Homo sapiens: one gene and its partners. The protein of the gene in region 1 interacts with the protein of each later gene in a pairwise test. Each region holds a gene or a part of one and is shown in the gene's direction. Other genes may lie near its edges.

Region 1 (7,036 bases):
TCCATGAGTCTGTCCCTAAGTAACATATGAATCTCATTCATTTACCTTACTTTGCTCACGGTTGTCTGTGAGAAAGGAGCCATTGTCTGGTCACCAGTGGAAAACTTATGTCTGCGACATGACTCCATCATTTGCGTGCCCAAGTTCATCTTCAAAGGCATTAAGCTTGCCTTATTCACTGATTTAACCATTTTAATGTATCTTACTGAGAAAATCCTACTCTCAGCTGTAACCATAGCACAGAGAAATACTTGCTTTTTTTGTAAAGTAAGAAAACATGGAGAAATTTGATAAGTGACTTGCCAAGGCTGAAGTTTCATCATTTGAAACACCAGCCAGGAGCAAGTGCTGTGAATAAGCACTGTGGCTGATGGGTCCCAGGGCTGGGGACAGTAGGGAAGCAGGGCCTTTTCATGTTTTAACAGGTCCCCGGTCACTGAGCTACCTACGCCTTTCCCCAGTTGATCTGATCTCTCTTCAACGGTTCAGTCCCCTTCCCTGCGCAAAGCAATCCATGCAGAATCTTCAATTCCAGCTATTCTTGATTCCTCCTCAGAGTGTTCAGGGATGGCAGCTTTCCAGGTAACTCCATGGAGGCCTGCACTTTCTAACAAAAGGAATGCCTCCAAAAGGAGTTGGTTACCAGGTGTGGCATGAAGTTAGTGAACCAGAAAGAAGGGATTTATCCGCCATTTAAAAAGATTGGGGGGTGGAGAAAGAAAGGAATAAAGAAAAGAAACCAACAACAAACAGGAATGACACCTAAATCTACTTCTATCAATCTGAACCATACTTCGGAGTAAAAAGTCTTTAAAGAAAAATCATGATGGTCAGAGTTCAGTTGTAGAAAAGTATGCAAAGCTACCAAGTTTAGACTTTCTGAGGACAGGAGAGGTCTCTGGGAAATAGCTCTTCAGCAAGGCAGTAAGATGAGATTACAGTGATATTTGCTACCTTGGGTTTATTTGTTTTAATGTATTTTTTCATCTCTGAGTTGAGTCAGAAAGGCCTCGTGATTCTTGGAACATCATTGAATTTATTTCTATAATTAAGTTATTTTTAAACTAACAGTCTTAGTATATAATTTTTAAGGATCACACATACTCATGCATTTTCTACTTAAGTAAAATTTAGAGAAAAAGTAGATAGTCTTAGTAGATACTCTCCCAAGCTTTTGTATGGGCCTGGATACTAACTTTGTGTTCAATACAAATCAATGGAACTAGGGCTCTTTAGGGTATTCATTCCCTAAGGACTCACTAATGAAATTATGTGTAGCCCTTTAAAAAAAGTCACAATGAGGCTAATGAAAATTTTTTTTCTAAGTGAAATCTAGATAGAGCTAGACACTAAGCTTACTGGTACATTTTATGGACAAGTTGTAAAAAAACTCAGAATGTTTTTTAAGAACTGTTTAATATTGAAGAAGACTTTGTAACTTAAATTGTTTAAACCGATAGAAAAGTAGATTATATGCCTGCAACTTCGAAATCATTCTGGTATGACATTAAAACTTAGAGAATTTTTTAATATCAGATACAGATGAAAAATCTAACAGTCTTTGGATTGGAAATAACTTGTGGGGGTTTTCATTAAAGTTGGGTGCAGCTTGCTGCATTTTGGTTAGTTGGATGTCTTCAGCAATTTTTCAAATGTTTTGGGTTTGGCAAAGTCCAAAATGTTTTTTGCCAAGACCCTCTTTTCCCCTTATTTTTTAAACCCGTGTGAAATTCAAGGATAACTTAATCCATATGTGTCTGATTCATTTACACTTAACTCATCAAAATGTTATTTTATAAGGCCCATTTAATATCCATGGAACCTTTTGAGTCTTTTTAAGACAAGTCTTTTGTCTTTGAACCAGCAAGTTACATTTTTCCATATGAATGGAGCCTGAACCTTGAAAGACTGAAGATGAGTTGATTTTCAACTTAGCTTCTTCAAATTTTACGTAAAATCAAAGCTTGATATTCTATTTACTACTTGAGCATTGAAAAAGGTCATTCTAAAAAATATAGATTAGAAGATGTGGAAAAAAATTTATTTCATGTAATTTTGAGAAAAGACCATATATGGAAATTTCATCTTACAAATATTAAATAAATAAAAATTATTTCTAGTTTGATTTGTTTTAGTCTATAATTTAAATGGCTCCATGTTATGTATGTCAGTGTATTTTCTAAGAGTGGCCTCTGAGTCATCAGTACTGGTAGGAGGCGGTAATTTCATTTTTTAATGTCAGGGTTTTCTTACAGTCAGCTCATTAATTGTTAATTTTCATAGTAATATCTATGATGTCAATAAAATATCCCAAGATCAGGGGAATTGACAATTGGCAGGAGTTGCATGTTAAGAGATTTCTGAAAATTTGGGGCCCATATGTTTTTAAAATTCTGTGTGATTTGAAAGAATGTGGTAGAATTATGAATCTGTCAAGAAATAGCACTATGGATCAAAAACATTGTTTGAGAACAAAAATCCAGAGAGGCTAAATGGTGCCCAAGTGAAAAAAGCAAAATCTCTGTGACCCTTTTTAAAAGGACCTAGTGAAAACCTTCAGAGGCTTCTATTCATATTTGCTTAGGAGAAGTGGGTAAAGAAAGGCCATTGCCATAACTGCTAGTGAACATCCAGTCCATGCCATGGTAACTAGTTGAAAATGTTATACTGGAGTGGCATTTCCAAGTTCAGTGCTTCTATAAAGACCTGCTAGCTCACAGAATGCTTTTTTAATGTTCTGCATTGTTGTGTGTCCCCCATTGAACAACCTTTTGAGCGGACCTCGTTTTTACTAATGTAAACATTCTGACTAGTATCCAAAGAAATGACCTTTGAGTGAACCTCTAACCTTCCCCGTAAGTATTTGTTTGAAGACAGTGTGGAGTTCTCCTGCTGAGAACTAAGAACCATGATGCCTTGCAGCTCTGTGAGTAAGGGAGTGTTTGGGGGAACTGGAGAGAAAGACATAAATAAGGGAACAACCTCCAGATGTAAAGAATAAAAGAGTGAAATTAAAAAGGGAAAAAAATAGCAATTCGTTTTACCCGAAGAGTTAGCCTATACCGAAAAAAAAATAAAAATAAAAAACGCAAAACACAAAAACCAGGATTAGTAGCACATAAAAGGGGGTAAAACCCCTGCCGAGTGTTGTCCTCTATTAGAAACTTCAAGGAGAAGAGCCTTCTCTGACCCTCCTGAGCATCTCTGCTGGTTTCAAGGTGAGCTGATAAAAACGGTTCCTGGGGTGGAAATATCAGGTCAGTCCTCCTTGGTTGCTGTAAAAGTGGTGGGGAAAGAGTAGATAATTAAGTTCTTTTTCTGATTGGAGGAGGGATGCTTCTGGAAGTCTTTGTGATCTAGTCAGATATTCATTCCTCAGCAACATTTCAGGTGACAGGTGGGAAGAAAGATGCAGTTTCAACTCTCCTTTTGTTTTCACCTCTACATAGCTGATCACTTTCTTTTTTGACAACTGAGCTACACTTTCTTAAGTAATAAAGAAGTCCATTGTTTTGCAAACAAACACCATATGCAAAAGACTCCTTTGGTTTTCTCCCAGCTATTATTCCTCAGCTTAATTGTATTCCCACCAGAGTGCTCACAGGAGGCCCGACCGAGTGGGGCCTGACTGTCCTCCTCCAAAGGGACTTCAGCTTCCTCGGAACACAGAGCTGCCAGCACACACTGAATTTTTCTGGCTAATTTCAAAGAGTGAGTTTTCAGTTCCTGCCTGTGGCCCCAGGTGGACTCATTAATCATGAAGTCCCCCTGTGCTTAAGATCTGAAACTGGAAATATTGACAGATGTTATCAATGGGTATATTTTTAGGGAGAAGCTAGCTGGATGCTCCCTGCTCCTCCGAAATGCGTGGTCAGTGAATCGTGTGCATGAGCTCAAATGTGTGGGGAATACACGTCGTTAAGTGCACAGGGACAAGGGTAACTCACAAATGGTAGAAAATTGTTTTGTTTTTATTAAATTTGGAGAAATAAAGGAGATTTCTTATCATCTTACTCTGTTTGTACATGAATATTTGATGGGCATTATTAAACATTAAAGTAACATGAAGTAGGCACTTATTTTTGGATTTCCAACAAAATTAGATCCAGGCTTCTTAGATGAAATAACTGCTTCTCCTTTGCATTCCTGCGATTCAGCCACCACCTGATTTGCAAACGTTTCTTGAGCTCTAATATCAAACATGTGTACCTGAGGCTCTGTCTTTCTAGTGGGTTGAAAGGTGGCTGGGTTTATGGTTGGCAGTTACCTTATCCTCTGCCCTGGGTGTCCCAGCTTAGGCTGGAAAGGCTGCCCCCAGCTGGCACTGACCTCTGAATGACCCCTAACTTTACAGGCTTAAACTGCAGGAGTTGCCGAAGAGCAGAAGTCTTTCTGGCCAGCACTTATTACTGCTGTGTTGGTGATAAAACTTCAGACAGCCTAATTGATGGCTTTGCTGACCTAACAATACCTTGTGAAAGCCGAGTGCTAGAGCCTGGTCTCCATTTATGACCAGCTGCAAGGGGAAGCTGGGTCTCCCTATCACGGGGAGTCTAGGGAAAGGGGGAAAGTCTTCCAGCCTGTGAACTTTAACCAGATTCCTACTTGTGCAAGAAGCAGAAGCACAATTTGAAGTTAATAGAAGCTTTCTCATGGAGAACTTTATTCCGTCCCTGAGCTCTTCTAGCAAGTTGTTTTGGAGTTGACTACGCAGTGACGACGGAGATTACCCAGTCAACTATTTTTGAACGCTGAAAGGGAAAATCACCTTTAAATTGAAAAGATAATTTTCAGAAGAGATTTGACTGTATTTTGTGCTCCTCAGCATTCATGCAAAGGTGTTCGCAGAGTACAGAAACGGAGTATGATGACTGGACTTCTCTGTTCTCTTTCAGGTTTATTAATGCCAGAAGAAGAATAGTACAGCCCATGATTGACCAGTCAAATCGAGCAGGCAAGTTCCAAGTAGTATCTATATTTATGTCCCACAGGCACAAATCCTCATCAAGTTATACTCCAGTAGTTTCCTCATCTGATAAATAAGTGCTTCCACCAGGCATTCTGGATTTTTTTTTTTAATGTCCCCAGAATCCCACTCAAGGAAGCAACTTCAGTAAGTGGTGCTAATTGGAGATTTCCCACCCTGACTCTACTGACACTGCTTTTTATTTTCTTTCTGAATTGGTAATTGGGCACAGGTATTAATGCCACAAGCAGCGTGTTTGTGAGCTCTGGCATTACCCCTTGCTTGTCTGCATCCAATCATTAGCACACTCTCATTTTTCTGTTACCCACAGCTCCTTGGTGTATGCTAGGCTTTCCTTTCTGTAGCATCTGCTGTTAAACTTATTGTATCCATTCATTTGCTTTGGCTATTCATAATATCCTATTAAAGCCTGACTTGCTGCATTGCCACCATTATTTTTTATTAAAGAATATTACCTTTGTATAAAATGCTTCACATCCATGCTGCTAAAATACATGTGAGCTTTTCTCAGAATTCTCTCAATTTCTCTAAAACAGTTTTTGTATGGTACTATCAGAACCCTCCTGGTATACTCCAAGTCGTTTTATTTTGAAACAGACATTTCCTCAGTTTACTGAGGGTTTGTGGTCTCCTGCAATAAGGCTTATAGGGAAAAACAGTTTTCCTTGGGGTGATGACTGCTGCCACTAACAACGGTGTTAAACTTGATGGAGATTTTACCTGTGGCCTCGCTTTAAAGGATTTGTGAAAATTAGTCATCCTTTGGCAAAATTTCCCCAATAACGCCAAAATATGTTCCCACTATTGGAGGCTAGGGAGAAGAACATAAAACAATGGAAATATTATATTTACTAAGTTTATATTTCCTTGGTGTGAATAAAAAGGCAAGCTTTTAATTGAGTCTATTTAACCTTGTGAAATTGTATTCAGGTTTAAAATGTTTGTGTAAAATATGAACATTTTGTATTAAGCCACCAGAGATGGCAGCCTCAGAGAATCCCAACCAAATGGTACATTGCAATATTTGTATATGGGGTACCCCTAACTTCTCCAGCCTTCGTCCCCCTAATCAAGAGATAAGTAAAAAAGCAAGGGCTGCAGAGGACGAACCCCCTGGGAAACTGGCCAGTGAAGTCTTTCTTCCAGAACATTTTTAAAGCTACTCACACACCTTCACTCAGTCATCAAGACACTCAGACAAACCACACCCCCATTTGTAGAGTGCCAACCACATTGTTGCTATAACGTTTCAGTGCTGCAGCGGGAACAATTGCTGATTGTTTGGTATATCTTTTCTTCTTTCTCCTCTGTGTCCTCGAATGACCACAATCAGGTTTTCTTCTTGATCCTTCAGTGAGCCAAGGAGCAGCATATAGTCCAGAGGGTCAGCCCATGGGGAGCTTTGTGTTGGATGGTCAGCAACACATGGGGATCCGGCCTGCAGGTAGGTTGGCTCATCCCGCCTCTGGGCTTCCCTGGGAAGTGCCACCTGCTCCACCAGCCTCTCCATCCACTCTACTATCCCACTGTCATGGTGGGTTTAACATTTGCCTGCTGCCTGCTCTGCCTGCTTTCTTTACATTGGGTGGGGGAAAAAATTCCTCTTTGAAAAAGTAAAGATTTTACCACAGTACCATTATACTCTGCCCCATACACATCCTTTTTCTTTTTTCTTTTTAAACCAAGGCAATAAGTGAAAAGGAATCTGAGTTTCCTTCTATTTTTTCACCATCAATTATTGCTGATTTTCCGGCCTCTTCTTGGATTTTATCTCCTTTCTAGGACCTATGAGTGGAATGGGCATGAATATGGGCATGGATGGGCAATGGCACTACATGTAACCTTCATCATGTAAAGCAATCGCAAAGCAAGGGGGAAGTAAGTACAGTCGGGTGCGATCTGTCTTCACTATCACTTCAGAGACTTTATTTTATTTTTTATAATTTGCCCCCATTTTATTTTTCCTTGCCCATAACTGCATGCCTTTCCAAACTAAGGACCTGTTTTTAAATATATATCACCCATCTCTGAAGTCACAGATGACACTGA
Region 2 (7,036 bases), on another chromosome or scaffold:
CAGTTCAATACACAGCTATTGAGCATCTACTCTATTCCAGGCACTGTTCTAGATACAAAAGATGTGCTGGGGAACAGAGCTGACAATCTTACAATCTTTCAGGAGGTTTCCACCAATGGTGACAACATTGGTATAAAAATGTTTTTTTGTACATCTGCATTTTGTTCAGAATATATCTGTTGGAGTCCTTAGAGATGGTGTTGTTTGTAATTGCTAGTTTCTAAGATGGGATGCGGGTAGGTGTAGGACACAGTCTTACATAGATTAAGGCGTCAGGGGAGTAGGAGAATTTGATGTGTTTACTCCTCTGCGTGCGAGTGGTCAAGATGGAAAGCAATGCCTACTATTGAAATTGTCAAGCACCGACTGGATTGCCTGGTCAAGCTCTCCATGGGAGCCCATGGTAGTTCTGGGCCAACCTTGGCTCATTCGTTTAGGAGAAAGGCACTTCCCCAGGAGGCAAGTTACTCTGCTATTTGGCCTCAATGTCCTCCCACCTCCCCATTTCCTGATGCTCTCTCTAGTCAGGTTGCCTGATCATTCTCATTTGTAAGAGAAGGCCCCTTCTCAGCACTTCATGGAGATTTGTCATGTTGTCCCTTGAAGACTGATTAGACAAGGCTTCTCAACAGCATCGTCATTGACCTTTAGGAGCTATGTGGCTCCCTGGGGCCCCAGTGAGCACGTGTACCTGGTGGGAGCAAATTGCTTGCCCCCAAGGACACTGCTCACCCAAACCACAGCCAAGCCACTTGGTAAATAGTGCCAGTGACATTTTGCCTTTGGTCCACAGCTGTCACCTGTGTCATTCACTCACAATGGAAGAAATGAAGAAGACTGCCATCCGGCTGCCCAAAGGCAAACAGAAGCCTATAAAGACGGAATGGAATTCCCGGTGTGTCCTTTTCACCTACTTCCAAGGGGACATCAGCAGCGTAGTGGATGAACACTTCTCCAGAGCTCTGAGCAATATCAAGAGCCCCCAGGAATTGACCCCCTCGAGTCAGAGTGAAGGTGTGATGCTGAAAAACGGTGAGCATGTGGGGAGGGAGGGAGCTGGGATTCCCTATCAAGGCTGCCACGGATACACCAGTTCTTTGATGTACTTGACACACTTGGACACTTATATGTTTGCTAAAGGCAAGTTGCTCTGACTAGTGAGAAGCCACACCCCTTCTTAGAAGTTTAATGTCAAAATGGGGCTGCCATCTACTGCTCCAACCTTACCTCCCCAGCACTGTCCTCCAGAAACTGGCTTCCTTCTGTCCGTCATGTTCGCTTTGATTTCTTCCTGGCCTTTGCACAAACTGTTCCTTGTCTGCAAATCTCTTCCCTCCCTTCTCCTAATTAACCCACATTCATCCCAAGATCACTTCTTTAGGGCAGCTTTCCCTGACCACCCACACCCCCAAGCATTCAAATATCCTATTACAGATTCTCCTACCGTTCTTTAACTCTCCTTCACAGCCCTTGTCACAGTTGCAGTTTTTACACTTGTATAATTATTTGACTATTGCATACTCCTCCATTAAATGAAAGTTCTGTGAGGGCAAGGACCATTGCTGATTTTGCTTAATATTGTATTTCTAGCATCTAGAAACAGTGACTGTGACATAGGGGACAACCAACAAGGATTTGTTGAATGAGTAAATGAACATACAAATATGCAAATTTGTGAGCACTGTATCTAGGTACAAAGAACCTTGAAATTTCCATAAAAGACTAAAACATAAATTAGAATCTTGCTGAATAAGCCATTAGAGCAGAAGTATGTTATGATAGTTTTTAAATGTTGATAATATTTACATTTTATATAATTTATTTCCATAAATGGAAAGTTCCCAGTTGTAGAGAGGTGGTTTTGAAAAGTTTTAAAATCAAAGCTGGCTGGGTGTGATGGTTCACACCTGTAATTCCAGCACTTTGAGAGGCCAAGGCAAGAGGATCACTTGAGGTCAGGAGTTTGAGACCAACCTGGCCAACATAGTGAGACCCTGTGTCTACAAAAAAATTTAAAGAAATTATTCAGGTGTGGTGGCTCATACCTATATCTCTGGCTACTAAGGAGGGTGATGCAGAAGGATCACTTGAGCCTGGGAGGTTGAGGCTGCAGTGGGCCATGATTGCACCACTGTACTCCAGCCTGAGTGGCAAAGCAAGACCCTGTCTCAAAAGAAAAAAAAAAAGTAAAGCTACTGGAAAAAGAAAAAAAGAAGTTTAATGTAAAAATGGGTGCTGTTTAATCAAATCAGTTCACCTATTTTATTATTTCCTCAATCATGTTAAATGCTGGGTTTACTGCTCAGCACACAATGAAACTCCACAACTATTTACTGTAATCATTATCAGTATTTTTCTTCATCTTCTGTTTTTTAGAGACAGGGTCTCACTCTGTTGCTCAGGCTGGAATGTGGTGGCGCGATCATAACTCACTGCAGCCACGAATTCCTGGGCTCATGAAATTTTCCCGCCTTAGCCTCGCAAGTAGCTAGAATTACAGGTATGCGCCACCACACCCAGCTAATTTAATTTTTTTTTTTTTTTGTAGAGACAGGATCTCGCTATGTTGCCCAGGCAGGTCTTAGATTCCTGACCTCGAGCGATCCTCCCACTTCAGCCTTCCAAAGTGCTGGTATTACAGGTGTGAACCACCACACCCAGCTAGTATTATTATCACTATTATTATTACTATAGGCCTGATGGGGCAGGAACACCAAAGCATCTATGAAAAGAAAACGCATGTCCCATGTAGGTGCTCCCAGCCTCTTCTCAACTAATAGTGCATGGTTTGGTGAGCAAGGGTAGGGGCCAGAGGGAAGTAGATGAATAGTCTTGCCACATCCCTTTCCCACCCTTCACAGGGCCAGGTGTGTCTATTTGCTAATTGTTAAGAAATAAACAGTCGTACATCTCAAAACAGTTACTTCAAGATAACTAAGTCAAAATGTGCACATCAAAATATCCAGGTTTGAAGGAAGCCTTAAACATCACACTAGCAGGGGCTGTAGTATGACTTTCACGGACCCTGGACACTTTTGTCTTCATGGACCTCCTTCCTCCACAAAAACATTAAAAGTTACATTTTATGACTGCATTGGTATAAAGATGAATATAATCCAAGCTGAGTTCATGTTTTAAATATATTCAGTATCACTGTCATATTCATTTTTTCTTCTGATTTTAAAACATTTTTGTGGGCCCCTAAAACTATTAATGGGTCCTAGGCACTGTGCCTCCTGTGCCTAATGGAGAAGTCACCCTCGCCAGCTGGATGTCACTCAATATGGCTCCCTTTACCTTTTTGGAAAGTGAGCAAATATATCAGGGTCTGGTGGATTTCAAGAGCTCTTTATTGGTGTTGGTGAGTGCACATGTTGAACGACTTGCTCCCACTGGAAGACGTACGTACCTCCAAGTAGGGGCTTTTGTGTAAAGTGGACAAGTGGGGCCTCTGCCTCCAGGCAAAGAGCTCCCCTGTTTCCAGATGCCATCATTCTGGCTTTGCTTTTTGGGACTGGAGAGGGAGTTGATGTGTATCTGATGTATTCACCTTTGCAGAATTTACTTCTCTCTTAGAATTTACTTTTGCAGTCAATCAATGTGGTTTTCTCAGAGAATCTTGTGGGTTAAATAAATATGTGGAAGGGCATGGGGTAGCAGCAGATACTAAAGGAAATGATGTAGAGCTTGCTGTTAAAATGGGCAGGAGGGGGTGGGTGGGGAGTGGGGAGGTGATGTCTAAGAGTGTGCTGAATAATCACAACAGAAGCAGGAATGACCATGGTCTTGAATCATTTGGGGGATTGACATGTGGTAAGAGCTGAGAAATGTGGTGTGTGGGATTCAGAAGATCTAACTGACTCCTTGGAAGTGTCAAAATCTCGGGCAGTTAATACACAGACAAGTATACTGACTTCGGCTATTTGACTCTGATTTATTTCTGAACACATTGGCTTGGATTCATTATAATCATTCCCTTGTAAGCATCATCAAGCCATGGTCTCACTTTTTCTATTCTACTTGCCTGGTAAAACCCAAGCTGGGATAAAACCAACTCTTGGCCTATTGCCCCATTTCTCTGCTTCATTTTGCAGCAAAACTCAAAATTGGTATTTATGTGTACTCTGTCCTTTCCTCTCATGCTCTCTAAACTCCATTCCACTCATGCTTTCAACCTCATCACTCCTTGAAATCGCTCTTATCAAGGTTACCCAGTGACCTCCACTTTCCAAATCCAATGGTCCCTATCTGTCCTCATCTGATTTGACCTATCATAACATTTGCTGCAGAAGATTGCTCTCTCCTCGTGAAATACCTACTTCGCTTGCAGTCAGCCCATAACATTATGCTTTCTTGGTTTTCCTCCTGCCTCCCTGGTTACTATTTCTTCTCAGTCTCCTTTGCTATATGTCCTTCTCTCTCCAACTTCTAAACATTTCAGGGCCCCAGTACTCAGGTCCCAGACAACTCCTTTCTCTGTCTACACTTACTGTCTTGGTCTTAAATGCCATCTATATGTTGAGCAATTCCAAATGCATATCTGCAAACCAGAATGGATTTCAGACGTGCCTGTCTAACTGCCTACTTGATCTTCACTTAACATGCCTAATAGGAAACTCAAACAAAATAGCTCCCAAACTGAATAAACTCTTAATTTCCCCCTCAACCTGCTCTGCCCACAGTCTTTCCCATCTCAATAAATGGGAGCTGCACCCTTCCAATTCCTTGAAGTCATGCTTAACACCTCTCTGTCTCACACCCCACATCCAATCCTTTTGGAAATTGTGTAGGTTCTATCTTCAAAATATCCAAGATCTGACCGCATCTTCTCACCTCCGTTGTCACCTGGGTCCTAGAAGCTATCATCACCCCCCGCTGAATTGCTGCAGTCACCTCCTAATTGGTCTCATTGCTTCTTCCCTTCCTCTCCTTCAGTCTATTCTTAGGAGGGCAGTCAGAATGGTAGCATTAAAATGAAAGTCACACACTAGCACTCTTTTGTTTGAAACCCTCTGACAGCTTCCCATGTCACTTGGAATCATATCCAAAGTCTATAATGGGGCCCTACCTCATCTGGGCCCCCGTTGTCTTACTGATCTCATATCTTACCACTTTCTGCCTCACCCGCTCCAGTCTAGGCTCCTTGGTATTCATAAACTATGCCAAGGACAATCCTGCCTCAGGCCTGCCCTTTGCACATGGTCTCTCCTATCCCTGGAATGCTCTTTCCCCAGATACCTGCATGGCGTCACCTTTCTCCATTCAAGTCTCCACCTGGATGTCACCACTTCAAACAGTCCTTGTCTGAGCAACCTATTTAAAAAATGAAAGCCCCCACCCTCTCACGTCTGTCTTCTTACCCTGCTTCATTTTTCTTCTTAGCATTTGTCACCACCGGGCACATTATATGTTGTATTTCTTTCTAGACTCCTCTCTCCCCTTACCCTCTGAGCTCCGTGGCAGTAGGGACTCAATCTGTTAACTGCTGCTTTCTAAGTACCTACCACAATGCCTGACACATGGAGGCACTCAATACATACGGCTTGAACGAATGAAATTATGATTTTGATCACAAGGTGTTGACCCTACAGATGGGGGTCACCGTAGAGAGGGAGTACGGTGTGGTGTACAGCTTTAGAACCACTCAGCATGGGGCCAAGCCAGCTCCATCACTTACTAACAGTGTGATCTCCAGACATATCACTTCTCCTCTCTGTGCCTCAGTTTCCTCATCTCTAAAATGGAATAATATTGAATTATAGGACTGTGCTTGTGAGGAGTCAATGAGATAATGCATGTCAAGTGGCACATAGTAAGTGCAATGTAGTCCAAGCTTGAGTTGAGTTTTTGAACAGCTAAGATAGATGTGAGGACCTGTGTTCACAACACCAGGTTCACAGAGCAGCAGGCATCTCCCATAAGCCTCCAGGTTTTCAGGGGGTTCTGTTTCATGGCTGCCATAGAGTTTCCTGTGCCTTCTGATTTCACCTCGACCTTCTGTGAAACCCCTGCCTGCTGAGGGAAGTTGGGCATGGCCCTGTTCCTTGCCCAAGCCAGCCTTCACAGGCCAGATAGAGAGGTGGCTTGGTTCTCCATCTTCCTTCTTGGTTGTTGCATTTTCCCTATAAGAACCCCACAAATCCTTTGACTGTGAAGATGTTGTCTCCCTCACAGAGTGTGGTGCGGGCTAGGCAAATATTTGTCCGCTGATTGAGCAAATGAAGGAAAAACTGCCTCCCTCAAAGCCTCTCTTATCACCACTAGGAGTCAAGTTTCTCATAAGCTCTGCTGCCTCAGGGGAGGGCCCCATGAAAGGCTTCCAGTCCCACAGAGGTTCTCACTGGAGGTGTTATATGACATACATATGGCTTTGAAAATGGTGGGAAATCTTTCAAGTGGCCTTTCATTACTGACTGTTAGTATCCTCTCAAACCCTACAGACCAGCACCAGGCCGTCCAGCCCAGCTAGGCCATTCCAAGGAGAACAGGCTCCCATTCATGGGCTCCCATGGCCGACTCGCCCACATTCTAAGGGCTCTCTGTTGAGCCAAATATGCAAGTCCCAAACACAGAGACCCGTGTGGCTAGGAAATGCCGTCAAATTTCCTGGCTTCTCTTCCCCAATCAGTGTTGTGTTTTTATTTACTTATGTATAATTTATACTGGCTGTACTTCAGAAAAGAAAATACAAGTTGAAGGTATCTTTGAATTATCTCCCTTTTAAAAGGACATTGGGAATTTTAGAATCAGTAACTAGAGAAGCTTCAGTAACTATAGTTTGTAGGGGGCATGGTCCTGGTACGTATGCCACCCTGTGTTCTTCTTGTCCTGTCCCCAGCCCCAGTCCTGAGGCCGGCCTCAGGCCTGGCAACATTGCTCTAGGGCTGCTGAGAGAAGGTGAGAGGGTATATACGTGGGCCTTTAGAGGTCTCAAAGGATCCAGCCTCCTTCTCTCTCCCCTCCCATCTGCCATAATCAGTAAGGGTAGGGAAGAAATGCTGGCTTTTTTTAAAAAAAAAAAGTGTAAATATCTATG
Region 3 (4,847 bases), on another chromosome or scaffold:
TGTGCTTGGTTTCTCCATCTGTAAAATATAGATTATAGAACCCACAGAGAAAGTGTATTGTGAGGACTGGAAAAGGTGTAAATCACCTGGCGCAGTGGCTGGCTCAGTGAATGGCCTCACCCATCAAATGGCCTCCCTGCTTGATGGGTGCGGTCACAGGCCTGGCTTCTCCTGGAGACAACAGGGTGTGATGATGGATGGATGGTTGGAAAGATAGGACAATGGGAGAATGGCTTCCTTCCACCCTTTCTGCACTCTCCCTGACTTCCTGCTCCTCAATTCCCATGATAAACATTGGTGATTGGCCACCTGACAGGGTGAGTGATTCTTACCCATAAATGTTTGTGCAGATTTACTTCCAGTTGCACCTGCATCATCCATTCATCCACTGACCAATCCATCATCCAGTTATCCATCCTTCTACCTAATCACTTACTCTTCCATCCATGTACCCACATATCCACTACCCACCTTCCCATCAATCCAGTCAACTAATATGAAGTAGCCACTTTCTTTGTAAGGCTCTTAGCTGGCATACAGGATGCAGATATAATCCAGACACAGTTGTTGTCCTGAATACCTCATAGACTGGAGATAAGGAAAGGGCCCTGTGTGTGTGTCAGATCTGTTCCAGGGCAGAGGCTGGAAAAGACCTAGTGTGTGACTCAGAACCCACGTGGCTTAGGCTGCAAGACTCCCCTCCCATCTCCCTATCCTGGGTGGGAAGCTCTACCTCTGGGATGGGTACTGTTAGGTTAAAGATGGTTTCTGGGTTTGGAGCTAGAGGAGCTAATGTTTCCCCCTCCAATATTACTCCCTGGACAGCATAAAGGTCACTGACCCCCAGCTGCTGGAACTTGGCCTTGTGCAGAGCCCTGATGGCCACCGTCTCTATGTCACCATCCCTCTCGGCATAAAGCTCCAAGTGAATACGTGAGTGGGTCCCAAGAGGGGGTGAGAGGATGGCTCACCGAGGGAGACCCTGGTGACCATGGTTAACCATAACGGGGGTATTGGAGTCTAACAGACCTGAGCCTCCAACTTCAGCTCATTTGCTGCTATGCTAAGTGGCCTTGGGTCACTTGGGAAACTCACTTGACCTCTTAAGTCTTTGTTTCTCCTGCTAGAAAATGAGATAAGTACAACTGTGGGCAAGATGGAGTGAGGTGAGGCTAGCATTCTTGGCAAGGAGAAAATAACCCTCTTCCTTGGAATGTGGTGGAGCTAGATACCAGTGGGGCTGTCTCCTTTGCAGGCCCCTGGTCGGTGCAAGTCTGTTGAGGCTGGCTGTGAAGCTGGACATCACTGCAGAAATCTTAGCTGTGAGAGATAAGCAGGAGAGGATCCACCTGGTCCTTGGTGACTGCACCCATTCCCCTGGAAGCCTGCAAATTTCTCTGCTTGATGGGTGAGGCCAGAGGAGCAGCTTATCCTGCCCAGAGATGACAGGGTGTGATGCCGGATGGATGATTGGAAAGCTGAGACAATGAGAGAATAGATGAGTGAGAGGCTGAAAGGGTGGGAAAATGGATGGGAAGGAGGGAGCGTGGAAAGATGGATGGATGGATGGATGGATGGATGGATGGATGGATGGATGGATGGACAGATGGTTAGATGGTTGGGTTGATGGAGAGAAGGATGAATAGATAGATGGATGGATAGATAGATGATAGATAGATAGATAGATAGATAGATAGATAGATAGATAGATAAAGTAGTACTTATTCCTTCTTAGACCAAGCTAACCAATTTTATGCTGGATCTAGCAACAAGAAATTGGAGTTTAAGCCCTGCATATTACAGGGGAATGGGGATAGAGGGCTTCCTGTGTGAACCTGGGTAGTGCTTCTCCAATTTAGTTCTAAGCTTACTTATCTGCAATATGGAACTGCACTGGAGTTATTGATAGAACCTACCAAGATAACAGGTGTGAAAGTGCTTTGTCCCAGTAAGGGGTAAAATAGACGTGGATCCTAACTAGGTTATTTATTTCAGTTACCTGTCACATGGGGAGACTGTGTCAAACCTATTACGCAAAAGTTGCCCACGTGGTTAACTTTTAATGAACACATACATTGGGCTTCACATGTGTCATCTCATTGGATCATAATGACAACTACATACTAAGTAGTATCCATTCATTTATGGACTCTGCAAAGCCTTATTGGCACCTGCTTTTTCTGAGAACCATGTGTTTATCCTACACATACCTGTGTGTTCACTGCTGTACACAAATGTAACTCCCTTTACATAAGACCCTTGCTGTTGGCCTGCACGTGGGTGTAGATAGACAAGGCTCGGCTTTAGTGACTGAGTGTTGAGACTGTGGGGTTCACAGTGGCCCCCTCTGGAGACTTCTCCACACCATCTCCAGGTCCCTGCATCACCCATGACTTTTCTCTTTCAGACTTGGCCCCCTCCCCATTCAAGGTCTTCTGGACAGCCTCACAGGGATCTTGAATAAAGTCCTGCCTGAGTTGGTTCAGGGCAACGTAAGTAGGCAAGGTGGGGATCCCCTGATCCTCAGGTTTTAGAGCTTCTTGCACTAAAACAAAGCCCTGAGCTAAGTGGGTCCGAGTCCCTCAATTTGATAAGTAACTTCCATTCATCAATCTATTTGTCCATTGATCCATCTGTCCATGTTTCTTCTTTACATCTTTCCAAATGCATTGATGAGTCTCTGCTCTAGGCCAGGCCCTGCTTGTCCACACTGAAGCTGAAATGGATTGGCCCCTGTTCTGAGAAATTGGAGAAGTTCCCTGTCCAGCCTTCTATGGCCACAGACAGTCTTTCAACCTATGCTTGGGTGTCTCCTATAACCAGGGCACTCCACTCCACTTAGAATCAGATGTGATGTCACAGGGTGAACACTGGGCTTGTTGTGTGATTTGGGGCCCTTCACAACATCCCTCATGCCTCCAGTTTCTCCTCAGGCATGTGTGACCATTGATCTGTGGGATTGCTTAGAATCACTTTCACACAGAAAAATGACAGGAAATTTCCCCAGAGAACCCCCACTAGGGATTCTGCTGCTCCAGGGTGCCACTCTGCCTAACTCTCCTCTCTGCCCCTGGCCAGGTGTGCCCTCTGGTCAATGAGGTTCTCAGAGGCTTGGACATCACCCTGGTGCATGACATTGTTAGTAAGTACCTGCTTTCAAGCCCTCTGTCCCTCTCTGCAGGAGCAGCAACTTCCCCCAAGGAGTTTTTTCCCTGCACACCCTAGGATACTAGGTCCCTCTGGCCTCAACTCTCTCTATTTTGGGCTTCATTTTCCCCCGAATAATCCAGATAATTTTGAGATAGACACCGTGTCTCCTGCCTCAGCCCTGACACTGAGGACAGCTGGGCTGGTTGGTAGAAGGAGGCCTGGCTTCCTCCAAGCATGCTGAACACAGTCGGATCTCCAGAGGCCTCCATTCCCTGGCCCCCCACCTTGAGGAATATGGACTCCTTCACGTTGAGATCATAACTGTCGTCTGTTTTTTTATTGCTTGTTTGTTTGTTTAGACATGCTGATCCACGGACTACAGTTTGTCATCAAGGTCTAAGCCTTCCAGGAAGGGGCTGGCCTCTGCTGAGCTGGTAAGTGCCCTTCCCCACACCCCAGGGTTTTGGGGGCTGGCTGTTCTTCTCCTGGTAGAAGGCAGACGGGAGCTTGGGACAATGACATCCAAAGAAAGAGACAAACATCTACAGAGGTACACACAGGGATGCACAGAGAAATCCACAGAAAAGCTGACAGAGGTGGAAGGATGCAGGCAGCACAGCAACACAGCTACCAAGAGAAACACACACACAAATGCCCAGACACATGGCCACTGATACAGATGCACACACTCTCACACCAGCACACTCACACACATGCACACATTGGTGGACTCACCACACACAGACACACACACTCTCACCCAGCACCCTCACACATATGCACACATCAGTGGACTCACCACACATAAGTACACGTGGATACACAGACACACTCACTCAAACACATGCTCACAGAGCCCTGACTCCAGGCCTGATGGCTTGCCCAGGGTCTCAGCCTCCTCCTGTCCCTCTGGGGCATGAGTTTGATGATGAGTCAATATCAGTAACGCTCACTGACCTTGAGTCTCCATCCTGATTAGGGTCTTCCCCCAACAGAACTATTTCTTGCTGCTCAATCCATTTCCTCTGGCCCAGCTTCCCAGTGCTCACAGATGGCTGGCCCATGTGCTGGAAGATGACACAGTTGCCTTCTCTCCGAGGAACCTGCCCCCTCTCCTTTCCCACCAGGCGTGTGTAACATCCCATGTGCCTCACCTAATAAAATGGCTCTTCTTCTGCATCAGGGGCCTTGTCATCCTTCACCATTACTTGAGGGCTCCTGGGTTGGAAACAGCCCTGGCCTGGGTGGTTGGGCCCATAGCATAGAGTTTGGCACTTACTTTGTAGATCTGAATAGTCTTGAGCAGGTCAGGGAGATGTTCAAGTGTGTGTGGATTTCAGAAGGCTTTCCCAGGTGTCCTTAGAAAGGGGGAATAAGGCATTCAGGGTAGATATAATACTCCAGGTACAGTTAATGACATACAAGTTTGCCGCACCACGAATGAAAATGGCAGATTTGTGTTAGGGAAATGCAAATTAGAACTACAATGAAGGCCAGGTGCCGTGACTCCCGTCTGTAATCCCAGCACTTTGGAAGGCCAAGACAGGCAGATCAGTTAAGGGCAGAAGTTCAAGACCAGCCTGACTGACATGGCAAAACCCTATCTCTACCAAAAATACAAAAATTAGCCAGGGGTGGTGGTGTGTGCCTGTGGTCCCAGCTACTCGAGAGGCTGAGGTGAGAGAATTGTTTAAGCC
Region 4 (6,072 bases), on another chromosome or scaffold:
TGAACCGACCCAAAGGCCAGTGCTTTCTTAATTAAGTTCCCACAGGTGAACAAAGCCAAAATTCAGATTCTATTTTATTTATGGTTTAGAATTACCTACTGTGAAAAAAAAAAAAAACTAGCTACTATAAATTATTGGGGGTTAGTCCATTTAGTCCATTTTGGAGTTCATAACCTAAAGCAGAAACTCACATGGTTGAAATGTCACTTTCCCAAAGGATTGTTATTAGTGTATCATTTAGATTGTCTTGCAAAAGTCTCATTTGTTGTTTTTTCTAAATGGCTGCTAATCTTTTAAATTAACAGATAGAGGGCCAGGCACGGTGGTTCACACCTGTAATCCCAGCACTCTGGGAGGCTGAGGCAGTCGGATCACTTGAGGCCAGGTGTTCAAGACCAGCCTGGCCAACATGGTGAAACCCTGTCTGTACTAAAAATACAAAAATTAGCTCGGCATAGTGGCACACGTCTGTAATCCCAGCTTCTTGGGAGGCAGAGGCATAAGAATTGCTTGAACCCGGCAAGCGGAGGTTCCAGCAAGCAGAGATTGTGCCATTGCACTCCAGCCTGGGTGACAGAGCATTGCTCTGTCCACCTCCCAAAAATGTAGTTAATTTTTTTTCTTTTCTTTTTTTTTTTTTTTTTTTTTTTTTTTTTTTTTTTTTGAGAGACGGAGTCTTGCTCTGTCGCCCAGGCTGGAGTGCAGTGGCACAATCTCAGCTCACTGCAACCTCCGCCTCCCAGGTTCAAGCAATTCTCCTGCCTCAGCCTCACAAGTAGCTGGGATTACAGGTGGCTACCACCACGCTTAGCTAATTTTTTGTATTTTTAGTAGAGACGGGGTTTCATCATGTTCGCCAGGCTAGTCTTGAACTCCTGACCTTAAGCGATCCCCCTGCCTCGGCCTCCCAAAGTGCCGGGATTACAAGCATGAGCCACTGCGCCCGGCCAACTTTCAATGTTAATTAGTTGTGGTTTGTTTAACCATATACTGCATAGTTTCGCTTATCTATAATAACAGTAGTTTGGGGCTCTTATATTCTAATAATTAAGACTTTAGCTGTGTACACATTGCAATTAAAGTATGAGTCATGCATAACCTTATCACCAAGATACAAGAGGGAAAGCCCTTCTCCCCTTAAACTTTTACAAAGGTTCTGGGTTCTTTTTCCACTTAAGTGGGAAAAAGTCAGCTAATGAGGAACGTAAAGTCTTTGGCCTCATCTAAAGGTGCTTTGGCCCGCAAGTGTGAGAAGCACTGACCGCTGGGAAGTCCTCACTGCCTGGTTCCTGGACTCTTACACCATGGCAGAGGCCATCTTCCCTCCCAATGCAGAGTGATATCCAGATAGCGAGCTGGCTAGCAGCTGTCCACTCTCCAGCAATCCTGCCTTCTGGGGCATGGTTTTCTAAGGACCTTCCTGTTCCTAGATGATCAAAATTGGGACCAGCCACTCCCTTCTGAGCCACTCCTGCCTCTGGGCCTGTGGCTATGTCACAGTCCAGTCACAACAGGACATCCCTTCAGAACACCCTGCAGGAAGCTGACATCTCTATGCAGACTCACACATGCACGGTGTGTGCACAGGCCTTTGGTTCTACTTCAGGAGGTGTTGGGGGAGGCTCACTAGTCCAACAGAACTTGAGGCCAGTTGTACCAGTGTCATATCCCAGGAGCCAAGGTTACAAGGGATACAAAGTGCCCAGACCTACCAGAGAAGGCAAACCCCTACAGCATGCAGGGCTAGACAGGGGCAAGAAACAAGGTCATTCTGGGCCAGCAAGAAGAGGGAAAGGGAAATGACAGGCATACCTCGGAGATACTGAAGATTTGTTTCCAGACCATAGCAACAAAGTGAGTCACACAAACTTTTTAGTTTCCTATTGTGCATAAAAGTTATGTTTGTACTATATTGTAGTCTGTTAAGTGTACAGTAGCATTGTGTACAAAAAACTGTGTATATACTTAATGGAGTCTCGCTCTGTCACCCAGGCTGGAGTGCAGTGCCACGATTTTGGCTCACTGCAACCTCCGCCTCCTGAGTTCAAGCCATTCTCCTGCTCAGCCTCCCAAGTAGCTGGGACTACAGGTGCCCATCACCATGCCCAGCTAATTTTTGTATTTTTAGTAGAGATGAGGTTTCACCATGTTGGCCAGGCTAATCTTGAACTCCTGACCTCAAGTGATCCACCCACCTCGGCCTCCCAAAGTGCTGGGATTACAGGCGTGAGCCACTGTATCTGGCCATATACTTTAATTTTAAAATACTTAATTGCTAAACAAATGCTAACCATCATATGAGGCTTCAGCTAATCCTGATCTTTTTGCTGGGGGAGGGTCTTGCCTCCATGGATCAGGGGCATGGCTGCTGAAGGCTGCTTTGACAACTTCTTAAAATAAGACAATGATGTTTGCCATTTGCCGCATGGATTATTCCTTTCAATATTGTTGTGCCTCAGGGAATAGGGAGGCCTGGAAAGCAGAGTCGGGAGAATGGCCAGTTGGTGAAGCAGTCACAACACACACATTTTTCCATTAAGTTTGCTGTCTTATATGAGCATCGCTCATGGTGTCCCAAAACAATCACAATAGTTAACTTCAGTAACTGATTACAGGTCACTGTAACAAGTATAATAATGAAAACGCTTGAAACATTTTGAGAATTCCACAGCGTGACATGGAGACATGATGTCTGCCTGCTGTTGGGAAAATAGCACCAATAGACCTGTTTGATGTGCTTGACACAGGGTTGCCACAAGCCTCCAATCTCTAAATAAAAAACAGCATCTGCAAAGAGCAATAAAGGGAAGCACAATAAAAGGTACATCTGCAAAGGGGAATCAGCACTTAAGCAAGGTCAGGATGAGCTTTCAAGTCAGGTGGACCTAGACATGAACCCTCCAGGCCCTACCAACAACCAGCTATGGACCTTCGAGCACATCCAGCCTAGAGCTGCCCCCAACAGACACTTCCCCAGTGAATGCTGAATGAAACCATCTGAGCCAGTTTCCTCAGGTGCAAACCAGTGAGGTAATTCCTACCTTGCAGAGTGAAGTGAGAAAAGACAGTGTTAAGAAATGCCGGGTGCGGTGGCTCACGCCTGTAATCCCAGCACTTTGGGAGGCCAAGACGGGCGGATCATGAGGTCAGGAGATCGAGACCACCCTGGCTAACACGGTGAAACCCCGTCTCCACTAAAAATACAAAAAATTAGCCGGGCGTAGTGGCGAGCACCTGTAGTCCCAGCTCCTCGGGAGGGTGAGGCAGGAGAATGGCGTGAACCCGGGAGGCAGAGCTTGCAGTGAGCCCAGATTGCGCCACTGCACTCCAGCCTGGGCAACAGAGCGAGACTCCGTCTCAAAAAAAAAAAAAAAAAAAAAAAGACACAAGACCTGTGGTAGCCTTTCCTTTCTGTCTGGCAGCAGCCACTGGGTAAACCAAGATGGTGCATACAAGTACATCCAGAAGCTATGGAAGAAGCAGTCTGATGTCATGAGCTTTCTTCTGAGGGTCCGCTGCTGGCAGTACCACCAGCTCTCTGCTCTCCACAGGGATCCCCGCCCCACCCAGCCCAATAAAGCACGCTACTGGGCTACAGCCAAGCAAGGTTATGTTACATATAAGCGCCACGGTGGCTGAAAATCTAGTTCCTAAGAAGGCAACTTAACAGCAAGCCTGTCTATCATGGTGTTAACCAGCTAGTTTGCTTAAAGCCTTCAGTCTGTTACAGAAGAGCAAGCTGGATGCCACTGTGGGGCTCTGAGTCCTGAATTCTCACTGGGCTGGTTAAAGATTCCACATACAAAGTTTTTGAGGCTATCCTAGTTGATCCATTCCATAACACTATCAGAAGGAAACCTGACACCCAGTGGTCCACAACAAGCATAGGGAGATGCGTAGGCTATCTGCAGGCCAAGAGAGCCACGGCCTTGGAAAGGGCTGTAAGTTCTACCACACTATTGGTGGTTCTCGCCATGCAGCTTGGAGAAGGTGCAATACTCTCCAGCTCCACAGCTACCGCTAATGTTTGTAAAATTCATACCTAATAAACACTAGATCAAAAAAAAAAAATCACAGACCTGTGGTAGGCTGGGCACCAGTGCTCTAAAGCAAGTTCTGCCTAAACTGGCAGGGACATTTTTCACATCAGGAACAGGAGTTGTTCCTGGACTCTGTCTGGGGCCAGGCTGGGAGAGACGTGGGGCAGAGTGGGGCAGGGGCAGGGGCAGGGCTGGGGGCTGGGGCCTGGGCAGGGCCAGGCACTCAAGTGAGGCCAAGTCCTGGAGCGAACCAGTTCCTGGTGGCCGTTGGACAGCTCACACAGCTCCCTGCCAGGTCACCCGCCATGGTCCTCCCTCTGCCCTGGCTCTCTCGGTACCATTTCCTTCGCCTCCTTCTGCCCTCCTGGTCCTTGGCACCCCAGGGCTCCCATGGGTGCTGCTCCCAAAACCCCAAAGCAAGCATGGAAGAGCAGACCAGCTCCAGAGGAAATGGGAAGATGACGTCCCCTCCCAGGGTAAGTGGCACCACAGGTAGGAACAGAGGGTGTGAGAATTTACACTGGGGTGTGGGAAAAAAAAACCCTCAATCCCACCCTGCACCACCCCACACCATGCCTACCCCTGCAGCTCTTTTCTTAGTTCAGCTACCAACTCCTCTCCCCACCTCCCCCAGCCCAGACCTCAGGGTTCCCTTCCCTCACCCCACCCCCACCCACAACAGCACAGTCCACAAAGTCCTTGAACAGGATCTATTCCCCCTCACCTAACAGTTAATTATTTCTTAGCGGGGAGGAGCAGCTGATCCTCTTTCCAGTGACCCCATATCCTTGTTCAAGGAAGCCAGTTACAGCCCCTGGGCCAGGGAACTCTATTTGCTCCCCCTACTACCACCCAGAGGCCTATGCCCAAGACAGGAAGCTACCTGGCCTTCTCAGTACAGGTGTCCTTAAACGACCGGTTCAAAAACGAATAGGGAAGGTGGAATTTCTCACTTCCAGCCACAGCCTGCAACAAAGCTTCCCAGGGCCTCAGCCCCCTGCCCTGGCTGATGCTCCCTCCCTTAATTCCCTGACCAGGGCCCTGGGACCCACCGCACAGCTGAGCTGGCCCGAGCTGAAGAGTTGTTGGAGCAGCAGCTGGAGCTGTACCAGGCCCTCCTTGAAGGGCAGGAGGGAGCCTGGGAGGCCCAAGCCCTGGTGCTCAAGATCCAGAAGCTGAAGGAACAGATGAGGAGGCACCAAGAGAGCCTTGGAGGAGGCGCCTAAGTTTCCCCCAGTGCCCACAGCACCCTCCGGCGCTGAAAATACACGCACCACCCACCAGGAGCCTTGGGATCATAAACACCCCAGCGTCTTCCCAGGCCAGAGAAAGTGGAAGAGACCACAAAGCGCAGGCAATTGGCAGGCAGTGGGGGAGCCAGGGCTCTGCAGTCTTAGTCCCATTCCCCTTTGATCTCACAGCAGGCAGGGCACCCAGGCCTTATAGGAATTCACCCTGGACCATGCCCTAAAATAACCTCACCCCAAATACAATAAAGGGACGAAGCACTTATAGATACCACAGACACATGTGTTTCATTTTTAGTTTTGTTAAAAAAAAATTCTGACAAATCAGAAATGGGGGTTCAGGAGTGGTGGTGATGCAAAAGATGGAAGCCATGGGGTGGGGGCTGTCAGGGGTGGGGGCAGTAGTGTCTCCTTCACCCCCACCCTGGTGTCCTCTCCTGAAGGACAGACGGTCACATTCCAAAATGGGCGAGTCTTCTACCGTGTCTGTTCAACTGAGAAGAAAACGTAGCATGGTCAGAATAAGGCATGAAAAGGGGAAAGTGAGGCAGGAACACACGGCACACATGCAGACACTGGTGTACTGCCTGGGTTCAGAGGACGGACGTGGGGGTGAGGGAAGGGATGTAATATGATGAGAGAAGACAAGACACCCCACATAAAGGTCAGAAAAACATCCCAACACAGCATCAAAGACCAGGGGGCATGAACCAGTCAAGTGTCCATTATGCATCAGATGCCCATGACCTATGTGATGGGATTTCGGACAAACACACTAAGGAACA

What was found.
Region 2: the proteins of MEIS2 (region 1) and VGLL1 interact in binary tests that used the Homo sapiens proteins (3 or more experiments, as listed by UniProt).
Region 3: the proteins of MEIS2 (region 1) and BPIFA1 interact in binary tests that used the Homo sapiens proteins (3 or more experiments, as listed by UniProt).
Region 4: the proteins of MEIS2 (region 1) and MCCD1 interact in binary tests that used the Homo sapiens proteins (3 or more experiments, as listed by UniProt).

What each region holds. Positions count from the first base shown.
Region 1 is NC_000015.10:36,894,546-36,901,581, reverse strand, and holds part of MEIS2 (homeobox protein Meis2), read left to right. Parts: intron 1-4,895; coding exon 4,896-4,954; intron 4,955-6,320; coding exon 6,321-6,431; intron 6,432-6,769; coding exon of another isoform or gene 6,770-6,828; exon of another isoform or gene 6,829-6,865; intron 6,866-7,036. UniProt on the Homo sapiens protein: Involved in transcriptional regulation. Binds to HOX or PBX proteins to form dimers, or to a DNA-bound dimer of PBX and HOX proteins and thought to have a role in stabilization of the homeoprotein-DNA complex.
Region 2 is NC_000023.11:136,535,203-136,542,238, forward strand, and holds part of VGLL1 (transcription cofactor vestigial-like protein 1), read left to right. Parts: intron 1-793; 5' UTR 794-818; coding exon 819-1,032; intron 1,033-7,036. UniProt on the Homo sapiens protein: May act as a specific coactivator for the mammalian TEFs.
Region 3 is NC_000020.11:33,238,978-33,243,824, forward strand, and holds the end of BPIFA1 (BPI fold-containing family A member 1 precursor), read left to right. Parts: intron 1-825; coding exon 826-933; intron 934-1,255; coding exon 1,256-1,408; intron 1,409-2,407; coding exon 2,408-2,492; intron 2,493-3,078; coding exon 3,079-3,142; intron 3,143-3,509; coding exon 3,510-3,550; 3' UTR 3,551-3,584; exon of another isoform or gene 3,585-3,692; intron 3,693-4,107; exon of another isoform or gene 4,108-4,129; 3' UTR 4,130-4,329; downstream 4,330-4,847.
Region 4 is NC_000006.12:31,524,670-31,530,741, forward strand, and holds MCCD1 (mitochondrial coiled-coil domain protein 1 precursor), read left to right. Parts: upstream 1-4,292; 5' UTR 4,293-4,345; coding exon 4,346-4,516; intron 4,517-5,077; coding exon 5,078-5,266; 3' UTR 5,267-5,563; downstream 5,564-6,072. Other genes in the region: spliceosome RNA helicase DDX39B, read right to left, coding at 5,765-5,781.